2 separate regions of the Homo sapiens genome follow, and region 1 is linked to region 2. The links come from fine-mapping of genetic effects on gene expression. A gene starts in region 2. The other region holds a variant in brackets. All regions are shown on one strand. Distances are from middle to middle.

Region 1 (10,637 bases), 47 kb after region 2:
CCTAGGAGGCGGAGGTTGCAGTGAGCTGAGATTGCCCTACTGCACTCCAGCCTGGGTGACAGGGTGGGACTCTGTCTCAAAACAAAACAAAACAAAAAACCACATTGTCATGGCTGTAACCCAAGACTCAAAAACTTCATCCTCCATCAGAAGAGCTTCTTGATGCCCAGAGGGCTGGACAATAGGCACTGGGGCCCTGCTGAAGCAAAGACCTTCATCTCATAGCCTTGCCTGTGTGAGCTGAAGTCAAAGCAGGCAGGAGAGCAGCTGCTGCCCCATTTCCACCTTCCAAATCTTCATGAATGCAAAGATTGGCAGAACCCAACTTATATGCAGAACCTGAGCTGCAAAGGATTCTGGGAAATGTAGGACTTGGCTTTTTTGCATCTGAGTTCCCAAGAACAGCAAAGTACGAAAATATCCTCAACATAGGAACAGGAGAGTGGAGGCAGAGCTGGACATGGTGGCACACACATGTAGTCCCAGCTACTTGGGAGGCTGAGGTGGGAGGATTGCTTGAGGCCAGGAGTTCGAGACCAGCCTGGGCAACATGGTGAGATCCTATCTCTTAAAAAAGAGAAAAAGGGTGGAGGCAGTTTGAGAAAGTGGCCGGGACTCTGAAGCCACGTAGAGTTTGAATTACATTAATGAGCCGTGTGACCTTGGGCAAGTAACTTCACCTCTCTGATCTTTGATATCTCACTATGTGAAATGGGCTCATTAAAGAACCTGGGTCATTGTGAGGATCTTGTAAGATCTCATACGTGAAGTACTTCACATACTGGCACAGTAAGCACTCAGTGAATGAGAGCTATTGTTATTGCTAAACGAAACCCACACCTTAAGAAGGTAAAAAAGGAAAAGCAAATAAACCTCAAAGAAAGTAGAAGGGACCGGAATTGGTGGCTCATGCCTGTAATCCCAGCAGTTCGGGAGGCTGAGGCAGGAGGATTGCTTGAGCCCAGGAGTTCAAGACCAGCCTGGACAACATAGACCCTGTCTCTGCCAAAAATAAAAATTAGCTAAGTGTTGTGGCACATGCCTGAGGTTCTAGCTACTTGGGAGGCTGAGGTGAAAGGATCCACTTGAGGCCAGGAGGTCGAGGCTGCAGTGAGCCATGATCACCCCACTGCACTCCAGCCTAGGCATCAGAACAAGACCCCATCTCAAAAAAAGTAGAAGGGAGGAGGCATTAAAGAGAATAAATCAGTGAAGGAGAAAGAAGAGGTACAATAAAGCAACAAAACCTAAAGTTGGTTTTTTGAAAAGATTAATAAAATCAGTCTGGGCGTGGTGGCTCATGCCTGTAATCCCAGCACTTTGGGAGGCTGAGGCGGGTGGATCACTTGAGGTCAGGAGTTTGAGACCAGCCTGGCCAGCATGGTGAAACCCCATCTCTACCAAAAATACAAAAAATTAGCTGGATGTGGTGGTCCACACCTGTAATCCCAGCTACTCGGGAGACTAAGGCAGGTTCACTTGAATCTGGGAGGTGGAGGTTGCAGTGAGCTGAGATCATGCCATTGCACTCCAGCCTGGGCAAAATGAGTGAAACTCTGTCCAAAAAAATAAATAAATAAATAAAATCCAATGGACCCCTGGTAAAAATCAATTAAGGAAAAAAGACAGCAAACATGAATCACCAGTATCCACAATGAAAAGGGGAACTTTGTTCTAACATTAAAAGATAGTAAGATGATATTAGGAACTACTTTGTGCCAATAAATTTAACAGCTTAGATGAAATGGACACATTACTTTAAAAACACACTGTATCAAAACTGACACAAGAAGAAATAGAAAACCTGAACAGTCTTATATTCTTGTTAAAGAAATTGAATTCGTAACTGAAAACCTTCCCTATAAAGAAAATTTTTGGCTTGGATGACTCCCACCAGTGGAATTCTTCCAAACACTTAAAGAAGAAATAACACTAACCTTAGACAAACTTCCAGAGAATAGAAAAAGAGGGCTCTCTTCCTAACATGTTTATGAGGCAGCATAATCCTGATATTCCCTGTGTTCCCAGAGCTCACAGCCCAGTATGGGATGGGGACATATATGAGAACAGACATTGACAGCACAGTGATTGAAGCTGCAGTGGGGAGCCCAGGGGCCTGTGGGAACCCAAAGGAGGAGGCACGTGACTCAGCCTGGGGCCGGGGGTGGTGGTAGATTATGAACTGACACCTGAAAGATATGTAGGAGTGAGTCAGGGGAAAAGGTAGGAGTAATGTTCTAACAGGTGAGACAGCCAGTGCACAGGCTAGTCACAGTGACAGAATGTGGCATGAATAAGTACATTAGCAAACGTTTGGTGTGGCTGGGCTGGACCTCAAGAAGGTGGGCATTGCTGGGAGAAGAGCGGTGGACAAGGATGCCCCCTGGAAACCTTCCCTGCCTCGTTTTCCCTCAGTGCCCCCCTCTTCTCCGGTCTCCAGGGGTCTCCCCTGACTCAGCCTCGGTGGCTGGGATTACTCATGAACCTTTCACATCTTTGGGACCTTTCACCATCTCCTACTCACCCTGGGTTCCCACATGAGCCCCTGACTTATTCATCGATGGGGAGGGCAGAGAAGGGAAGAGGGAGAAGCTCAGGGGCATGTCTTCACCCCCTCACTCCCTTCCTGGCTGTGTCTCCTGCAGAACAACCTCCCTCCTAGCATGATGACCCGCAGAAACACCTACGTTTGCACAGAACGCCCGGGGGCTGAGCGCCCGTCACTGTTGCCAAATGGGAAAGAAAACAGGTACGGAGGGGGCAGCAACAGGGTGAGGGGTGGGAAGTAGGGGGTAGGTGAACAGGACCTCCCTTGATCTGAGATGATAGGCATTGGAGGCTGGTGCCATGGGGACCAGAGAGTGAGTGTATCTGCCCTGCCCTTGGCAGAATCGACCCATGTACCCCCCTGAAAATCCTCCCCACTTAATTAATTAGTCTTAAGCACCAGGAAAGCAGTTGGCCCTGTTCTCCGCCTACAAGCCTTGGGAACCTGAATTGATTTTTTGAATGATCCATTTTTAGAACTCGAGAGAAGCCCCAGAATGTCACAGCTTCAGCGTCATCTGGTTGGCTGGTTTTCCGGCTTGTTGGCCTGAGTCTGTGAGGTCTCTTCCAGCTGGCAAGGGAGGGAAACCAGTTCAGACTGGCTGGAGCAGAGAGAGGGAAGGGATTGGTTCACATCACAGGTCAAGGCCAGCTAGAATGGGGCCAGCTCCAGGATGAGGACACTGCCCCCCACCAGGGCTGTAGGGCAGGTTGATGGCCAACACCAGGGCACACTCTGGGATGCACCTGATTAGTGGGTGCAGGTGTTCCCACTGGGTGTGGGCAGAGGAATGGGGTAGTTAACAGTCACAAATCTGTCCAGGCACAGTGGCTCATGCCTGTAATACCAGCACTTTGGGAGGCTGAGGCAGGTGGATCAAGAAGTCAGGAGATCGAGACCATCCTGGCTAACATGGTGACACCCCGTCTCTACTAAAAATACCAAAAAAAAAAAAAAATTAGCTGGGTGCAGTGGTGGGCACCTGTAGTCCCAGCTACTCTGGAGGCAGAGGCAGGACAATGGCGTGAACCTGGAAGGCGGAGTTTGCAGTGAGCCGAGATCACGCCACTGCACTCCAGCCTGGGCAACAGAGCGAGACTCCATCTCAAAAAAAAAAAGTCACGATTCTGTGAATACTCAGTTCTGAGTTCGAATCTTACCTCTGTGCTCACACTGCTAGCAGAATGACCGGGTAAATCCCTGTGCCTCTGTTTCCTCCTCGGTAAAATGGGCTTGATGCTGGCCGGGCATGGTGGCTCACACCTGTAATCCCAGCACTTTGTGAGGCCGAGGTGGGCAGATCACCTGAGGTCAGGAGTTCGAGACCAGCCTGGCCAACATGATGAAACCCTGTCTCTACTAAAAATACAAAAATTAGCCAGGAACGATGTCATGTGCATGTAATCCCAGCTACTCAGAAGGCTGAATGAGGCAGGAGAATCGCTTGAACCTGGGAGGCAGAGGTTGCAGTGAGCTGGGATTGCGCCACTGTACTCCAGCCTGAGCCACACAGCAAGAATCCGTCTCATAAAAAAAAGGGCTGATGCTGTCCACTTCCAGGCCCCATTATAGAGATGCAGTAGAGATCAGGTGTGTCCTGTACCTGGCACTGGGTCTGATGCTTAGGAGGCCTTCATTCAGTGACTTGAGAGTGCTTTTTTTTGGTGGTTATCAAATAACAATAGTGAACATTCATGAAGCAGCAGCTACATGCCAGGCTTCTATGTCTATTGCCTGGCTCAGTGCCCCTAACAACTCTGTGAGGTAGATCCTAATATCTCCATTTTACAGCTGAGGACATAAGGCACAGAGAGGTTAAGTAACTTATCCAAGGCCACACAGCTGGTAAGTCAAGAAGCAGATTCCAGACTTGACTCCAGAATCTTATTTGTAATCACTGTAGTACATGGCCTTCCAGTTCTGCTCAAGAGA[T/C]AGTGGAACAGTTAAATTACAGACTCAGACAAAAAAAATCAAAAATTAAAAAAAAATTTAAAAACAACAAAAAATAAAAAGTATAGACTCAGCTAGCTGCTGTAATAAAAACAAAGAGATCCCAGGGTAGAGTAATTTAAATAAAAAGGACGTTTAGTCCGGAGGGTCCTCCAAGGACCCAGGTAAGTTCTTCCAGCCCCAAAATGAGTTTCCAGCTCTGGGACTGAGGCCGCTGCACCAGCAGCCATCATTTCCCAATCAGGAAGAAGTGGGGAAAGAGTAGGGGACAAGCAACAACTCTTTGTAAAGGCGTCACCCAGAGATGGTACAGAGCACTTCTGCTTATATCCCATTGGCCGGAGCATGGTCACATAACCATCTCTAGCTGCAAGAGAGTCTGGGAAATGTAGTCTCTGGCTGGGTGGCCATGTGCAGTGCTCATACTCTTAGGGGTTTGGTTACCAAGAACGAAACAGGGAGGATGGATTCTAAGGGAGAAGTAACAGCCTCTGCCACAATCAGGATTCTTCTCTGAGATCCAGGCTGGGCCTGGAGTCCCTGGGAGGATAGAAATTGGAGGTCTGGGCTGGGCGCAGTGGCTCACACCTGGAATCCCAGCACTTTGGGAGGCCAAGGCCAGTGGATCACCTGAGGTGAGGAGTTTGAGACCAGCCTGGCCAACATGGTGAAACCCCATCTCTCCTGAAAATACATAAACTACCCAGGCGTGGTGCTGCATGCCTATAGTCCCAGCTACTCAGGAGGCTGAGGCAGGAGAATCACTTGAACCCAGGAGGCAGAGGTTGCAGTAGCCAAGATTGCCCCATGGCCCTTCAGCCTAGGTGACAGAGTGAGACTCTGTCTCAAAAAAAAAAAAAAAAAAAATTAGCCAGGCATGGTGGCACACGCTTGTAATCCCAGCTACTCAGGAGGGTGAGGCAGGAGAATTGAACTCAGGAGATGGAGGTCTGGCCCCTGCTGTCGACTAGGAGGGTCCGAGGGGCTGGAGGAGGGTCCTGGGACAGTGGAACCCCCACTGCCCAGATTACCATAGTGAATACAGGTATCCTTGACCTTTACATCTATCCCTTTCCTGATTTTAGATGGTGAGAGTTCAGATAGCAAAGTGTTTGCCAAGTTGATTTGGTTCCTGAGGTTTCGGCAAATAGCAAGGAAGTCACCCAAAAATGTCTGTGCATCTATTCAGTTGCTGCGTTTAGAGAGAGGAGAGTTGTGATAGGAGATGATTTGGAGCGGGTAGAGTTTGAAGAAGGGACAGTTTGAAGGAGGGGTAATAGGAGAGGAGAGAGTCAGTAAAATAATGCTAGGATTGTATAGTGCACAGCCTGCACAACTGTACGTTGCAGCCCTGTCTCTGAGTTCCAGGCTGGTTGCAGTCCCTGGTCTCAGGACAGGAATGTGAAGAATCAAAGGGACTGGGGCCCTGGCCTGCCTCAGTCCCCCACCCTGACTTGTCTGTCTCTGCCCACAGCTCAGGCACCCCACGGGTGCCCCCTGCCTCCCCCTCCAGTCACAGCCTGGCACCCCCATCAGGGGAGCGGAGCCGCCTGGCACGTGGTTCCACCATCCGCAGCACCTTCCATGGTGGCCAGGTCCGGGACCGGCGGGCAGGGGGTGGGGGTGGTGGGGGTGTGCAGAATGGGCCCCCTGCCTCTCCCACACTGGCCCATGAGGCTGCACCCCTGCCCGCCGGGCGGCCCCGCCCCACCACCAACCTCTTCACCAAGCTGACCTCCAAACTGACCCGAAGGTGAGCTCCGCGGGGATGGCAGGGGCAGGGCGGGGCGGGGGGCCGATGGGACCTAACCTGTCTTCCACTCTGCTCTGTCTCCTGTACCCCAACATTTCCTCTTCCTCCTCCTCCTCCTCCTCGTTTCCTCCTCCTCCTCCTCCTTTCCTCCTCCCCTGTCACCCCTCACCTCCCTCCTCACACTGCAGGGTTACCCTCGATCCCTCTAAACGGCAGAACTCTAACCGCTGTGTTTCGGGCGCCTCTCTGCCCCAGGGATCCAAGATCAGTAAGTCCCGTCCATGCCCTGTTCTCGCTGGCTCTGCCTCCCTGCCTGCATGTCTGACCTGTGTGTGCGGGCATTGGGAGGGGGCTCTGTGGATGTGAGGGTCTGTGCGTGGGGTCTGGTTGTTCATTTACTCACAGAAGCACAGCCTATGGAGCCAGACTCGGGGGTTCAAATGGCAGCTCTGCCAAGTGACCTTGAGCAAGTCACTCAAGGTCTCTGGGCCTGGTTTTCCTCTTCTGTAAAATGGGTATAGTAATAACAATACCTGTCTCCTAGGGTTATTGTGAGGACTAAATGAAGTGACGTATGGACTGAGCGTAGAACATTGCCTTGGAAAGTGCTTTACATGTGTATTAGTTATTAATTGCTATTATTCATTGAGCCCCTACTGTGTGCCTGGCACTGTCCTAGGCCCTGTAGTAGAGGGTGAGCAAAATGTACAAAACTCCTGCCCTGGCAGACCCAACATTCTACTAAGGGATCTAGACAAAAAACAAAGAAATAAGTAAAATATACTTACTATATAGACTGCTAGGTAGTGCGAAGTAACTAAGAAGAAAAATAGAGTAGGAGCCAAATTTGGTGGCTTATGCTTGTAATCACAGCACTTTGGGAGGCTGAGGCGAGGGGATCACTTGAGCCCAGAAGTTCAAGACCAGCCTGGACAACGTAGCAAGATCCTATCTCTACAAAAAAGTAAATAAATTGGCCGGGCGTGGTGACTGCACCTGTATTCCCATGGAATTGGGAGGCCGAGGCAGGAGGATCACTTGAACGCAGGAGGTCAAGGCTGCTGTGAGCTATGATCATCAGTCTTGGCAACAGAGGGAGAACCTGTCTCTAAAAAAAAAAAAAAAAAAAAAAAAAATTGAACAGGGAGGGGAATAAGGGGTGTGGGGAAGGGATGGGGTGCAGCATTAAATGGGCAGGCCTCTGGATGAGGTGGCTCAGGCCAGCAATCCCAGCACTTTGGACAGATGACTTGAGTCCAGGAGTTTGAGACCAGCCTGGGCAATGTGGCAAAGCCCCATCTCTACAAAACAAAACAAAAAACAAAAAGCAGATGTGGCACGCGCCTGTAGTCCCAGCTACTTCAGGGGCCAAGGCAGGAAGATTGCTTGAGCCTGGGAGGTTGAGGCTGCAGCGAGCTGAGATCACGCCACTCCTGCATGACAGAGTGAGACTCTGTCTCAAAAAAAGAAAAAAGGGCAGGCCTCACGAAGGAGGTGTTGTTTGAGCAAAGCATGAATGTATATGTGAGCGAGGGAGTGTGTGTGTGTGCACACGTGCGTGTGTCTCTCTCTTTCTCTCTGTGGCCACTTATCTATGTAAGGGTGTGTCTCTGCCCACTCCCCTCCCTTTCATCTTCCACATTCTTCAGTATCTTTCCTGTGACCTGCACTAACCATTTCAGAATGAGCCCCGTTATGGGGATGGACAAGGAGATCAAATCCTGACTCCAGGCCCTCACCAGCCCGGAGGGACTGGGGTTGAGGCAGGGGCTGCTTGGAGTCCCAGAGGCAGTGGGTTGCGGGAGGTGGGTTCCCTATGTCCAGATTAGACACTCTGTCCCCCTCCCCTCCCCTAGGGTCGCAGACGAACCTGAGAGAATCGGGGGACCTGAGGTCACAAGGTGAGTGCTTGGGCCTACCCCTGACTGCCACTTCCCCTCTCCTGCCTCAGCACCTCCCGACACTTACCCCAGGGCATTAGATGGGGCCCCAGTCTCATCCTGCAAGGCCAACTTCCTGAAATGCCCTGTGGCCCCAGCCTTCTCTGCCAGCTCCTCTCATTCCCACCCAACCCCAAGCACCTTCCCTTGATCATCTTAAACTTCAGCCTCCGGCTGGGTGCCATGGCCCAAGCCTGTAATCCCAGCACTTTGGGAGTCCAAGGGAGGCAGATCACCTGAGGTCGGGAGTTTGAGACCAGCCTAAGATGGAGAAACCCCGTCGTTACTAAAAATACAAAAATTAGCCGGGCGTAGTGGCGCATGCCTGTAATCCCAACTACTCGGGAGGCTGAGGCAGGAGAATCGCTTGAACCCGGGAGGCAGAGGTTGCGGTGAGCTGGATTGTGCCATCGCACTCCAGCCTGGGTAGCAAGAGTGAAACTCCGTCTGAAAAAAAAAAAAAAAAAAAAAAAAAAGCCTCATCCCATCCACAACTCAACTCCTCTTCTGGTCAATGCCCCCACCTCCTTTTGCCTCTCATCCAGTCATGGCACAATGTTTGCTGGCAGCTCAGGGCCAGCAGGAGGCAAACATCTGTACGGACCCAGATCATGAAGATTTTAGGCTTTGAGGGCCAGGCACCCTGTGTCACGCCTGTTCAGTTGTGCCATTGTAGTGCAAAAGCAGTCATATTCAACACAAAACAAATGGGTATGGCAGTGTTCCAATGAAACTTTATTTACAAAAGCAGACAGCACTGGAGTTTGCCAAGCCCTGGTTTTGTCTGAGTTCCCGGTTTAGAGACCCAAGTGGAAACCGGAGCCTTCCCAGCAGCTGCAACAAACTGCCAGGGCTGACTCTCATTGGTTGGGACTTGGTCACATGCTCATTCCTAAACCAATGCCTGCAGCCAGAGAGGAGAAGTACTCTGGTTGGTCAGACCTGGTCATGTGGTCACCCTTGACCCAAGCACAGTGGCCGGGAAGTAGAATGCTATCATTGGCAGAGCTGAGTCGTGCTCACCCAAGCTGAGGGGCGGCCCCACCGGAACAAGGGAGGCTAGTCCTGGGATGCTCATGTAGAGCAGCACTCTCGTACTTCAGGCGGGACGTTTCTTTGTTGTGCAGGGCCCTCTTGCACATTGGAGAATGTTTTTCATTCCTGACCTACCCCATCCCCAACCTAGTCAGTGCCAGCAGTGCTCCCATCCTAAGACATGTGACAATCAAAAAGCCCCCAGAGGCCGAGCACAGTGGCTTATGCCTGTAATTCCAACAACTCAGGAGGCCAAGGCAGGAGGATCACTTGAGCCCAGGAGGTCGAGGCTGCAGTGAGCTGTGATTGCACTACTGCATTGCAAGACCCTGTCTCAAAAAAACTAAGAAGTGGCCGGGCACTGTGGCTCTCGCCTGTAATCCCAGCACTTTGGGAGGCCAAGGCAGGTGGATCACCTGAGGCCGGGAGTTTAAGACCTGCCTGCCCAACATGGTGAGACTCCGTCTCTACTAAAAATACAAAAATTAGCTGGCCGTGGTGCCTGTTCTCCCAGCTACTTGGGAAGCTGAGGCAGGAGAATTGCTTGAACCCGGGAAGCAGAGGTTGCAGTGGGCCAAGATTGTGTCATTGCCTTCCAGCCTGGGCGACAAGAGCGAAACTCTGTCTCAAAAAAAAAAAAAAAAAAAAAAGCCGGGCGCAGTGGCTCACACCTGTAATCCCAGCACTTTGGGAGGTCGAGGCGGGCAGATCACAAGGTCAGGAGATCGAGACCATCCTGGCTGACACGGTGAAACCGTGTCTCTACTAAAAATACAAAAATTAGCTGGGGCCAGGCGTGGTGGCGCGTGCCTGTAATCCCAACTACTCAGGAGGCTATGGCAGGAGAATCGCTTCAACCCAGGAGGCGGAGGTTGTGGTGAGCCGAGATCGTTCCATTGCACTCCAGCCTGGGTAACAAGAGCAAAACTCCGTCTCAAAAAAAAAAAAAAAAAGAAAAGGAAAAAGAAATTTCTCATTCAAACATTCAAACCATGTGGCCAAGCCAGGCTGGTAAGGCCACTGTGATCTATGCGGTCATTCAGGTCCCCAGGTTATTGCATCCCGATTCCCTGGAGCCCTTGTCATCTTCACAGTTGAGGCTGGCCTGTGCCACTGCTAAGTCCAGCTCCTGGGAGATGTGGGACAGGAGAGCCTGGCACATGCAGGTTCTTTGAAGGAACTGATGTGGATGGCACATCTCACTTCTGCTCATGTCCCAGAATTTACAGACAAGGTCACACCTGGTTGCAAGGGAGGCTGGAAAGTGTGGTCTCTAGCTGGGCAGCTCTGTATCCAGTTGAAACTGTCGCTGGGGTAACAGGGGAAGATGTTTTTTGAGGGGATGGCTAGGAATGTGTCCCGAATTGGGAAGAGTTGTCCCTTCAGCCCTCCACCACATTCCTCTTCGCTC
Region 2 (10,637 bases):
GATCTCGGTCTCTCCTGCTTGATCTCAATCCCTACCTGGTCCCTGTCTCCCATCTCCGAGACCCCATCTCTTGGGATAGAACAAATACCCGATCCTTCCTGGCCTCAGTCTTCCCGCCCAGACTCGCAGGACATTCGACCCAATGTCATCTCATCTCTATTCTCCTTTGGTGGCACCAAGGTTTCTAATGCTCCCTTGCACCCTTTGTGGACCCCGCGAGTCCTCAAATTCTCCCCTGCACCCTCCTCTCATTTTCATCTCCTTTCTGCCTTCTCGCCAGCACCCCTCTGGAGTCAGGCCCCAGATTCTCTCTTTGCCCCCAGCCTCTGCTGGGTTCAAGGTACAGGTTCTCATCAGCTCTGGTCCAGTGCAACTAAGGGCAACTGTTTTCCCAGTTGCCCTGGGGAAGGGGGACCCCTTCCCCCTGTCCCCAGCACACTCACCTCTGTCCTCCTGCCCGTCCTTCTGTTCCCGCTGCTGTCCTGTCCCCAGGCTACTTCAGCCAGGACTGCTGGGAGCTTGGATCTGAGTTGGGGGGGTGCTCGGAGGAGGACAATTTCCTGTCAGGAAACCCCTCCCTCTCTGGGGCCAGGGGCGGGAAGGACTCATTATCTGTCTGCCCTTTTAGGCCAGGCTGCGGTTGGGCTGGGAAGGCCGAGGCCCACAGCTGGGCCCCCACCCTCACCCCCGCTCCAGGCCGGAATCCGCCCACTCCTGCATGCTCTTCACGCCTCCCAAGGTGACAACACCATCCTGGGCGCCCCGGGGAGACACCCCAAGCTGGACGCCAGCCCAGAGCTGCTCTCCAGCATGGGCAAGCCCCGAGGCCTTAGAATGAGAACCGGGGGGCAGGCACGCATCTCTCTAGAGTTCCCTGCCACGGGCTGAAGACCAGGAGGGAAGTTTTGCTGGGCCCAGGGGCTGGGGAGGGGGACCTATGGAGGAGGGCACTGGACATGGCTTTGGAATTGTGGTTCTCTTTGTCTAGAAGCCCCTGTACCCAGGTCTCTGCATGAGGCCCTCCTTTTCATCATCCCAGTTCCAGCCCCACAGTCTCTTCCTCTGTTCTCCACTGTCCCGTCTCACAGAGTCGTCACTCTGCTTTGTCAATTTATTTTTCTTTTTTTTTTTCCTGAGACAGAGTCTTGCTCTGTTGCCCAGGCTGGAGTGCAGTGGCGTAACAATAGCTTACTGCAGCCTGGATCTCCCAGACTCAAGAGATCCTCCCACCTCAGCTTCCTGAGTAGCTGGGACTACAGGCATGCACCACCATGCCCAGCTAATTTTTGTATTTTTTGTAGAGACACGGGTCTCATTAGGTTCTCCAGGCTGGTCTCAAACTCCTGGCCTCAAGCCATCCTCCTGCCTCGGCTTCCCAAAGTGCTGGGATTACAGGCGTAAGCCACTGTGCCCAGCCTGTCAATTTCTTTATTGCACCTTCTACAATCTGAAATTATCAGATGCAACTGGATTCCTTGCAGATAAACTCAGCAAAGCTCACTTTGTTGATCCTGTTCATCTTTATAAGCCTAGCTGCGTGCCTGGCCCTCAGTAGTCAAGATTTAAATGAATTTAAATGAAGCTGAGGGTTGGAGGTGGGTTTGGAGATGGACTTCCTGCTAGAGTTGGGATGCCAAGTGAAGTGAGGGCTGGGGCTGGAGCTGGTGCTGGGTGGGGTTGGGTATGAGAGTCAGGGTTACTTTAAAAGGCTAGGGCCATGTGTGGTGGCTCATGCCTGTAATTCCAGCACTTTGGGAGCCAAGGCAGGGGGATTGCTTGAGCCCAGGAGATCAAGACCAGCCTGATAATATAGCAAGACCCCGTCTCTACAAAAAAAAAAATTTTTTTAATTAGCCAAGTGTGGTGGCACGCTGTAGTCCTAGTTACTAAGGGAGCTGAAGTGGGAGGATCACTTGATCCTGGGAGGTGGAGGCTGCAGTGAGCCATGATCTCGCCACTGCGCTCCAGCCTGGGTGACAGAGAGAGACCCTGTCTCAAAAATTAAGAAAAAAAAAATTTTTTTTAAATAAATAAAACTGGGCTGGTTGCAGTGGCTTATGCCTATAATCCCAGCACTTTGGGAGGCCAAGGTGGGTGGATCGCTTGAGGTCAGAAGTTTGAGACCAGCCTGGCCAAACTGATGAAACCCTGCCTCTACTAAAAACACAAAAATTAGCCAGGTGTGGTGGTGCATACCTGTAATCCCAGCTACTCGGGAGGCTGAGACGGAAGAAATCGATTGAACCCAGGAGGCAGAGGTTGCGGTGAGCCGAGATTGTGCCACTGCACTCTCCGGCCTGTGAGACAGAGTGAGACTCCATCTCAAATAAACAAACAAACAAATAAATAAATAAGATAAACTGTGTTCAAGTGCTCAGGCACAGCCTGAGGGGGATGCGTGATCACTGGCCTAGGCAAAGTCCAGGCTGGGATCAGGGTTGGGGTCAACATTAGGATCGGGGGCTGGGCTTAGGGATCACAGCTCCCTCCTGGATCCAAGGGTTAAGATTCAAAGGTCTGAATGCCCCAGTTGAAGGAATGAATTCACCAGACATAGGTTGTGGAGGAAGGGCTAGCTGGATGACCAGGTCGGGAGGCAGAGGAACAGGCCTTGCCCCCCAGCTCGGCCTCTGCACCGCGGACCCATGGTCAGCAGTGGCCCATCATGTACTGGGATCGTGCAGGATTTCCACCCCGCCTTATTTATTTATTTATTTATTTATTTATTTAGAGACGGAGTCTTGCTCTGTCGCCAGGCTGGAGTGCAGTGGCGTGATCTCTGCTCACTGCAACCTCCGCCTCCTGGGTTCAAGCAATTCTTCTGCCTCAGCCTCCCGAGTAGCTGGGACGCAGGCGCTTGCCACCTGCAAGCGCCCGGCTAATTTTTTGTATTTTTTTTAGTAGAGACAGGTTTTCACTGTGTTAGCCAGGATGATCTCGATCTCCTGACCTCGTGATCTGCCCGCCTCGGCCTCCCAAAGGGCTGGGATTACAGGCGTGAGCCACCGTGCCCGTCCCCCTCCTTTTTAAAAATTATTTTTTTTATTTTGATTTAGAGACAGGGTCTCACTATGTTGCCCAGGCTGGTCTCGAACTCCTGGGCTCAAGTGATCCTCCCGTTCTGGCCTCCCAAAGTACGGGGATTACAGGTGTGAGTCACCGCGTCCAGCCCCCTTTTTAAATTTTATTATTATTTTTTATTGAAATACAATTCACATACATAAGAGTCACCCTTTTCAAACAGAGTCCGGTAGGTTTTAGTATATTCACAAGGTTGCAGCAAGCGTCACCACTATTTAATTCCAGAACATTCTCATCACCCCAAAAAGAAACCTGGTACCCATCAGCAGTCATTTCTCATTCCCCAGCCTCCAACCCCTGGCAACCATTAATCTACTTTCTGTCTATGGATTTGCCAATTCTGAATATTTCATATGAATGGAAGCATACAGTAAGTGGTCTTTTGCGTCTGACTTCTTTCGCTAAACATGCTGTTTTCTTTTTTTCTTTTTTGAGACGGATTCTCACTCTGCCGCCCAGGCTGGAGTGCAGTGGCGCGATCTCAGCTCACTGCCAGCTCCGCTTCCCGGGTTCACGCCATTCTCCTGCCTCAGCCTCCTGAGTAGCTGGGACTACAGGCGCCCGCCACCGCGCCCGGCTAATTTTTTGTATTTTTAGTAGAGACGGGGTTTCACCGTGGTCTCGATCTCCTGACCTCGTGATCCGCCCGCCTCGGCCTCCCAAAGTGCTGGGATTACAGGCGTGAGCCACCGCGCCCGGCCACATGCTGTTTTCAAGGTTCATCCACTTTGCAGCCTCCCTCTCTGTAAGCCTCGGTCCCCCCACATCTGGGAAATGGGGTGGGGACGCTGTTGGGGAAGGGAGGGCAGGGGTGGACCCTGGAGTGTGTGGGGCGCGTGTAGGGAGGTGATCGGCTGCCCCCGTGTGGTGCACGGTAGAACTGCAGCTCTCAGCGCCAATGCAGGGAACGGGTTGGGGGCGCTCAGCCCCTCTAGCCTACCCCCAAGACCCCCACTTTCACCCTGCGGCGTCCCTGGGATCACAGTACGTCTAGAACACTACCCCGGAACTCCACCCTCTCTGCCACTGTCCCTGAGGCTCCTCGGGCCATATTTGCCAAATAGTAATAATAATGTCCCCACATATGAATTTTGAATCTGGTCCCCTGTGAAGCACTTTACTCAAAGATTCTCATTTATTTGTTAGCAGTAACATTAAAATAACAAATAAATATAAACAAATTGACAAATAAAAATAGTAGCAGCCTGAGGTTGCTGCTATTATTTTTCGGAGACAGGAAACCACAGTGGTTGAGAGAGGGTCCAAGTTCTGGAACTTGGGAGCACTTGGATTCAAATTGTAGCCCTGCCACTAATTTGCCGTGTGACCTTCAGCGTGTGACGTTTCTCCCTTCCTTGGGCCTCTGTTTCCTCATCTGCAAATGGGATTGATAAAGATGCTCCCTACCTCTTGGGGTGGCAGAAAGGAGAAACTGCTCAGAGCCTGGCACAAGGGCAACTGCCATGAGTCTGTGTTGCTCATAGTATCAAGCAGTGCTGTGCTTTCACAACCAGCTTTTGGCTGAGTGCAGGGTAGTCCCAGCACTTTAGGAGGCCGAAGTGGGAGGATCGCCTGAGCCTGAGAGTTGGAGATCAGCCTGGGCAATATGGCTACAAAAAATTAGCTGGGCGTGGTGGTGCACACCTGTAGTCCCAGTGACTTGGTGGGGCTGAGCTGGGAGGATTGCTTGAGCCGGGGATGTCCAGGCTGCGGTGAGCCATAATCGTGCCACTGCACTCTAGCCTGGGTAATGCAGTGAGACCCTGTCTCAAAAACAAAACAAAGCAAAGCAAAACAAAACACCCCCAGCTCTCTGCAGGTGGGGGTGTGGAGCCTTAATTTGTAGCATTTGCCAATTTCCATGGTGTAAATATTCCCACCATGGCTAATTTCAAGCTACCAAGGTGATATCACATGGCATTTTTGCCCCCCATTATATAGTAATTTTACTGTGCAGCTACAATAGACGTAGGTAACCTCAAGATCACAGATAATGGCAAATGTAGTAAGATAACTAGGACGTGATGAGTATGTATTACTTGTACCTTTAATGTAATTTAATTGTATGTTTGCATAATTTAATTTTTAATAATGGCTGTGTTTAACAACCAGTTCCAAAATTCCTGAGACATAACAATCAGCTCGCTCCAGCCAGATCCAGCACACTGCTGTTTTAGAAGGGGAAACTGAGGCTCAGGAAAATAAGCCTCAGATAGAAGAAGGCAGGGCACAGACCCCTTCCCAAAACCATGTGACTCCCAGGCCAAGACTATGTAATGCCTGTCTTTCTTTCATCCCACCCTGGTCCACAGAGCATGGATGGTCCCCACAGCGCTGTGTGGCCTCCGAGAGGCTCTTGTCCTCTCTGGTCTCAGCCTGCCCGCATGGGGAGTGGCTGTGCCCTGCAGGCGAATACCTGCACAGGGTTCCTTCGCACCTGCCAGTGAGCAACACACGGATTCTTCCTTTCACTTTACAAACTGGGAAAGTGAAGCCCAGAAAGGGCAAGTGCTTGCCCCGGGTCATACAGGTGGACAGAGAGGGTCCCCACACCCCAGCTGGGGTGCAAAGGAGTGGATGCTGCAGCCCCAACCTGCGGGTCTGGATCTATGTGGCTGAGTGGAGGCAGCCTGACTAGGGAGGTCACTGAGCCCTCAGCAGTGGCCAAGCCCCGCACACCATCCCCTTCACCCACCCCACCCTTAGGCCTCCGAGGGGAGAGCTTCCCCCGCTCCCCCCCGCCAACTGGGGAGAGAATGGGCCAGGGGGAGGGACAATGTGGGCAGCGCCTCTGGGGTCTTCTCTGGCTCAGTCCCTTTATCTCTATCTCTTCACAGATCTCTGCGTCTCTGTATCTCTTTGTCTCTCCCTGTGTGTGTGTGGGGTCTCTCTCAGTCTTTGTCCCTCTGCGTCTCTGGGTCTCTCTGTCTCTGTCTCCCTGCGTCTCTCTCTCTCTGTCATCTGGCTCTTCCTTCATCTCCTTGCGCCTCTCCACCCTTTTGTAACTCGTCTCTCTCTCTTCGTGTCTCTCTATCTCTACGTCTCTCGATCTCTCTCTCTGCGTCTCTGGCGCTCTGCCCCGGCCTCTCTCTCCCCTTCTCTCCTCTCCAGTGCGCCTCTCGTCTCGGGCGAGAACACGCTCCCCGCCGGCGTGCCCAGACCCGCCTCCGCCCCCGGAGCCCCCGGAGCCCCCGGCGCCCCGACCAGCCCGGGCCTGCGCCTTTAAGGGCCGGCGGCGGGGGGCGGGGTCCCGGCGCCCCGCCCTGCCCGCCCCTCCCCCTGACGTCCCTTCCTCCCTCCCCAGCCCCTCCACCGCCTCCCTCCGCCGCCGCTTGGGCCGGCTCCGCGCCCCCTCCGCGGCCCCCGCCCGCCCGCCTGCCCGCCGCCCCCATGGCGCCCGGGGTCCCCGCTGCACGGGGCCACTAGGACCCTCGGCGTCCCTTCCCCTCCCCCGCCCTGCCCCCTCTCCCGCCGCGCGGACCCGGGCGTTCTCGGCGCCCAGCTTTTGAGCTCGCGTCCCCAGGCCGGCGGGGGGGGAGGGGAAGAGAGGGGACCCTGGGACCCCCGCCCCCCCCACCCGGCCGCCCCTGCCCCCCGGGACCCGGAGAAGATGTCTTCGCGGACGGTGCTGGCCCCGGGCAACGATCGGAACTCGGACACGGTGAGTGGGGCCCGGCCCCTTGGGGAGCCCTGGCTGGGTCCAGCCGCCAAACCCTTCTCCCCGTTGTACCCCTCGCCCCGCGAGCCCCTACCCTCGTTTCCTGGGCCCGACCCGGCTCGTCACCTCTCGACCCCTCCCGGACTTCCAGGCCTCTCCACCCTCCCCACCTTTTCCAGCCCAGCCCGACCCCTGGGGGCGCCCCTCTCTCGGGACCCCTCTCTTGTCCCCGTGCAGACCGCTTCCGCTCGGGTCTGTTCCCTCCAGGAAGCCCCTTCCCCTGCTTCCAGGAGCCCCTCCCTTCTCTTGCCTGTGCTAAGCCGTTTCCCCTCCAGGCCGTCCGCGTCCGACACCTCGCCCCCTCCCGGATTTGCAGGGCCCCTGACCCCCCAAGGCCCGGCCCTGGCACTCTCAGCAGGGCCTGGCCCAGTCCTGCCTCTGGCTCCGGCCTTCCCTGTCTGGGGCTGGGTGCCGGCTCCCCAGGAGCCCCCCTCCTCTTATTCCCAGCCCTCTGCCCCTCCAGGACGCACCCAGGGCGCCTGTGGGCAGCCCCTGGCAGGAAGCTGGTTTCCACCTCTCCTGGGCCCCGGCCCTTTTCTGGCTTCTTCAAGGTCTCTCCCGTCCCAGGCCTGGTCCCCATCTTCCAAGCAGCCCTGTCCCTAGATCCCAGCACCCCGGGGCCCCCAGATGCCACCTGGACCCTTTCTGGTCTCTTCCTCTCCCAGGAAGCCTTGGCCTCCAACTTCTAGGCCCTCACCTCACCCAGGCTGGTATTTCTAGGCCCTGGACCAGTCTGACTCCAGGCCTCATCCGCCCTCTATCAACTTCTCAGCTTCAGGCAGCCCCTTCCCCAACCCCCAACCTCTGGACCCCCTGCTAGGCCAAACTCAGACCCCTTCCCCACAAACCACCGTCCTTTCTCCTGCCCCAGGGCCTCCCCCTTCCTTGCTGGGAGTCTGGCCTTCCAAGGAAGCCCCCTCCTCAGCTTCAGAGGCCTTCCTCAGCTACAGGGCCTGGCCCCAGATCCTTCTTCCAGAAAACTCCTGGACCTGAAGCCTCTCGTCTTGCCCTGGTTTCAAGCCCTTTTCCCTTGGGTCAATCTGCTGGAAGCTTTCTCCCCAAATTTCTAGACCCCTTGACCTTCCCCAGGGCTCAGCCTTTATTCATCTGGGCTGCTCCTTGCCCAAGAAGTTCCTACCCCATACTTCCAGGCCCCCCAGACCCTTCTCTGGTTTCAAGGACTTCTCCTAGAAGCCCCCTTCTCTGATTCCTAGGAGCTTCCCCAAGACCCAGGGATTCCTGGCCTCTGACTTCCACTGCCCCCATGGCTTTGTCACTTTCCACCATTCCCAGGCGCCCCCTGCCCCTACACTGCTTCCCAGAGAGGCCCCTCCCCATCTCCTGTGTCTCTGATCACTGATCACTTCCAAAGACCTGCCCACCACCCAATCCTAGACTTCTCCCCACCTGGGATCTTTGTGGCTTTCTCCAAATCCTTCTGCCAGGTCCCTGTTCCCCTTCCCCCTGTTTCCCTCACCTCCGACAGACCCCCCCACACACACACACCATCAGAGAGATTTATATCTGTCCCTTCCTCATCTTGCAGATCCCTCCCTCACAGAGACCACCCCGCATCATCACTATGGGCCAGAACTCCAATTTGGAGTCTAATGAAATGCCTACCACCTCTGTTCCTTGGTCACTACAATCTACAGTGAGGTGCCAGGGGCTCCACAGTCCTGGGTTCCAATGCTGACATGGCCAGCTGGTTTGCCTTGTGTCCTCAGACAACCAGTTCTCCCTTTCTGAGCCTCAGTTTCCTGCCCTGGAAAATAGGGGTGACCGCTTGAGTGCCTCCAAGGCTTACTCGATTCAGGCGAAGGCTGGCACCTAGGAAGCACTCCACAAATGCCAGCTGCTATTGTGGCTGTGGGTATGAGTCAGACAGCCCGTGGATTCTCAGCTCAGGGCTGTTATTGGTTGTTGAGTGAGCCTGCAGATTCACTCCCAGCTTGCAGCCTCAGTTTCCTTATCTCTAAATCGGGTTGATGATGGCCCCCCACTGTTAGGGATGTTTGCAGGAGCCAGCGACGTGATGTGACTAAGGTGCACAGGGCCTGGCATGTGTCGTGGCTGTTGTGGTTATTAGCACTACTTTAATTGTTCAGATAAACTTGGGTTCACATCCTGTTTCTGTCCCTCCCTAGCTGTGTGACCTCGGGCAAGTAACCTTACCTCTCTGAGCCTTGGTTTCCTTGTCTGTTAAGTGGAACGCCTAATGAAGACTTGCTGTTCCCTGGGTTGTTAAGATGCGTGCATGGTGCGGATTTGAGGATGGCTAATCCCCTTTTCTCTCCTCCAACTCTTGTCACTAAGACCTGCCTGTCAGTCCTGGTGGGGAGTCACTTGCCTGCCTCTGGAATGGGAGGTTGCAGCCCCCTCTCCTGTTACCTGGTTACCATGGCTACAGCCACGTGGGGTCATGCTCCCCCACCCCAAGTTCCAGGGCCCCCCACCAGGGGGCCAGCCTCCCCAGGTTCCCTAGCAACAGTCCCGGGTGTTGGGGCGCCAGCCGGGCGGGAGGGAGCCAGGCCAGCTGGTGGTGCAGGCCAATTTTAGCTCCCACCCCCGGCCCCCAGGGGCTTTGTCACCCACTGCCCCAGCTGCCCCTCGCAGGGGTCCCTCAGCCATGCTGCCTTCAGCGTGGTGCCATCCCACCTCCAGCTGGCTGCCCTGGCGCCACCTGACAGGGCTTCTTCTCCAGGTCCTTATCTTGGTGGGGATCGGAGGCCTTATCTCCAGGATCTCCACCTGCCTCCCTGGTCTCTCCTGGGAAGAAGCCTGGGCCTGTGGGGAAGCCTGGCTCAGCACTCAGGAGGAATCAGCAGGCCGGGGTTCGCATCCCAGCACTCTGCTCCATCTGCCCTGTGACCTTGGGGGAGGGACTCCCCCTGCCTGAGCCTGGGTGTCCCCGTCTGAAGACTGCAGATCATAATTGGACCCACATTGGAGGCCAGGGTGAGGGCACGGCAGGCAGTGGCGGACGCGTGGTTAGAGCCCTGGCCGTGGTGGTTGGAACTGCCCAGCTGTGGGGAGGTTGTCTTTCTGCCCCTGTGAATGGACTGTGTGACCTTCACATGGCACCTTCCCTCTCCAAGGCTCAGTTTCTCTGCTGGAACATGGAGTCATTCCCTGGGCTACTGCAGGAATTAAGTGTAGGCGAGTTACCTGTTTACACAGGACTTGGTCCATAGCATGAGCTGCTTTGTAGAAATGGTTCATGACCCAGCGTGGTAGCTCACACCTATAATCCCAGAACTTTGGGAGACCCAGGCAGGAGGATGGCTTGAGCCTGGGAGCTGAAGACTAGCCCGGACAACATAGCAAGACTCCATCTCTACAAAAAAATTTAAAAATCAGCTGTGTGTGGTGGTGCACTCCTGTGGTCCCAGCTACTCAGGAGCCTGAGATGGGAGGATTTGCTTGAACCCAGGCAGTTGAGGCTCCAGTGAGCCTTGATTACACCACTGCACTTCAGCCTGGGTAACAGAGCAAGGCCCTGTCTCAAAAAAAAAAAAAAGGTTCAGGTGTGAGAGGCAGTGTGGTATTGTGACAGAGAAGAGCATCAAGTCTGGTGGAAACTATCGGGCACGGTGGCTCATGCCTGTAATCCCAGCACTTTGGGAGGCCGAGGTGGGCAGATCACCTGAGGTCAGGAGTTCAAGACCAGCCTGGCCAACATGGTGAAACCCCCTCTTTACTAAAAATACAAAAATTAGACGGTTGTGGTGGCGGGCGTCTGTAATCCCAGCCACTCGGGAGGCTGAGGCAGGAGAATTGCTTGAACCCAGGAGGTGGAGGTTGCAGTGAGTTGAGATCGTGCCATTGCACTCCAGCC

Evidence for each region.
Region 1: its variant is fine-mapped to the expression of MARK4 in whole blood (INTERVAL, PIP 0.98).

Annotation. Positions count from the first base shown.
Region 1 is chr19:45,291,704-45,302,340 of GRCh38, forward strand. MARK4 (microtubule affinity regulating kinase 4) reads left to right here. Exons shown (of 17, transcript NM_001199867.2): 14 at 2,646-2,749; 15 at 5,973-6,251; 16 at 8,108-8,152. Among named protein-coding and RNA genes, the nearest start is that of CKM, 26 kb to the right of the region's middle. RefSeq lists a silencer at 1-133. The variant T/C (reference allele first, on the strand shown) is at 4,481.
Region 2 is chr19:45,244,898-45,255,534 of GRCh38, forward strand. MARK4 (microtubule affinity regulating kinase 4) reads left to right here and starts at 6,374. Exons shown (of 17, transcript NM_001199867.2): 1 at 6,374-6,742. The coding sequence starts at 6,692. It overlaps EXOC3L2 (exocyst complex component 3 like 2), which reads right to left and starts at 510. Exons shown (of 12, transcript NM_001382422.1): 1 at 444-510. RefSeq lists enhancers at 204-1,200, 7,282-7,838 and silencers at 6,049-6,428, 6,659-6,808.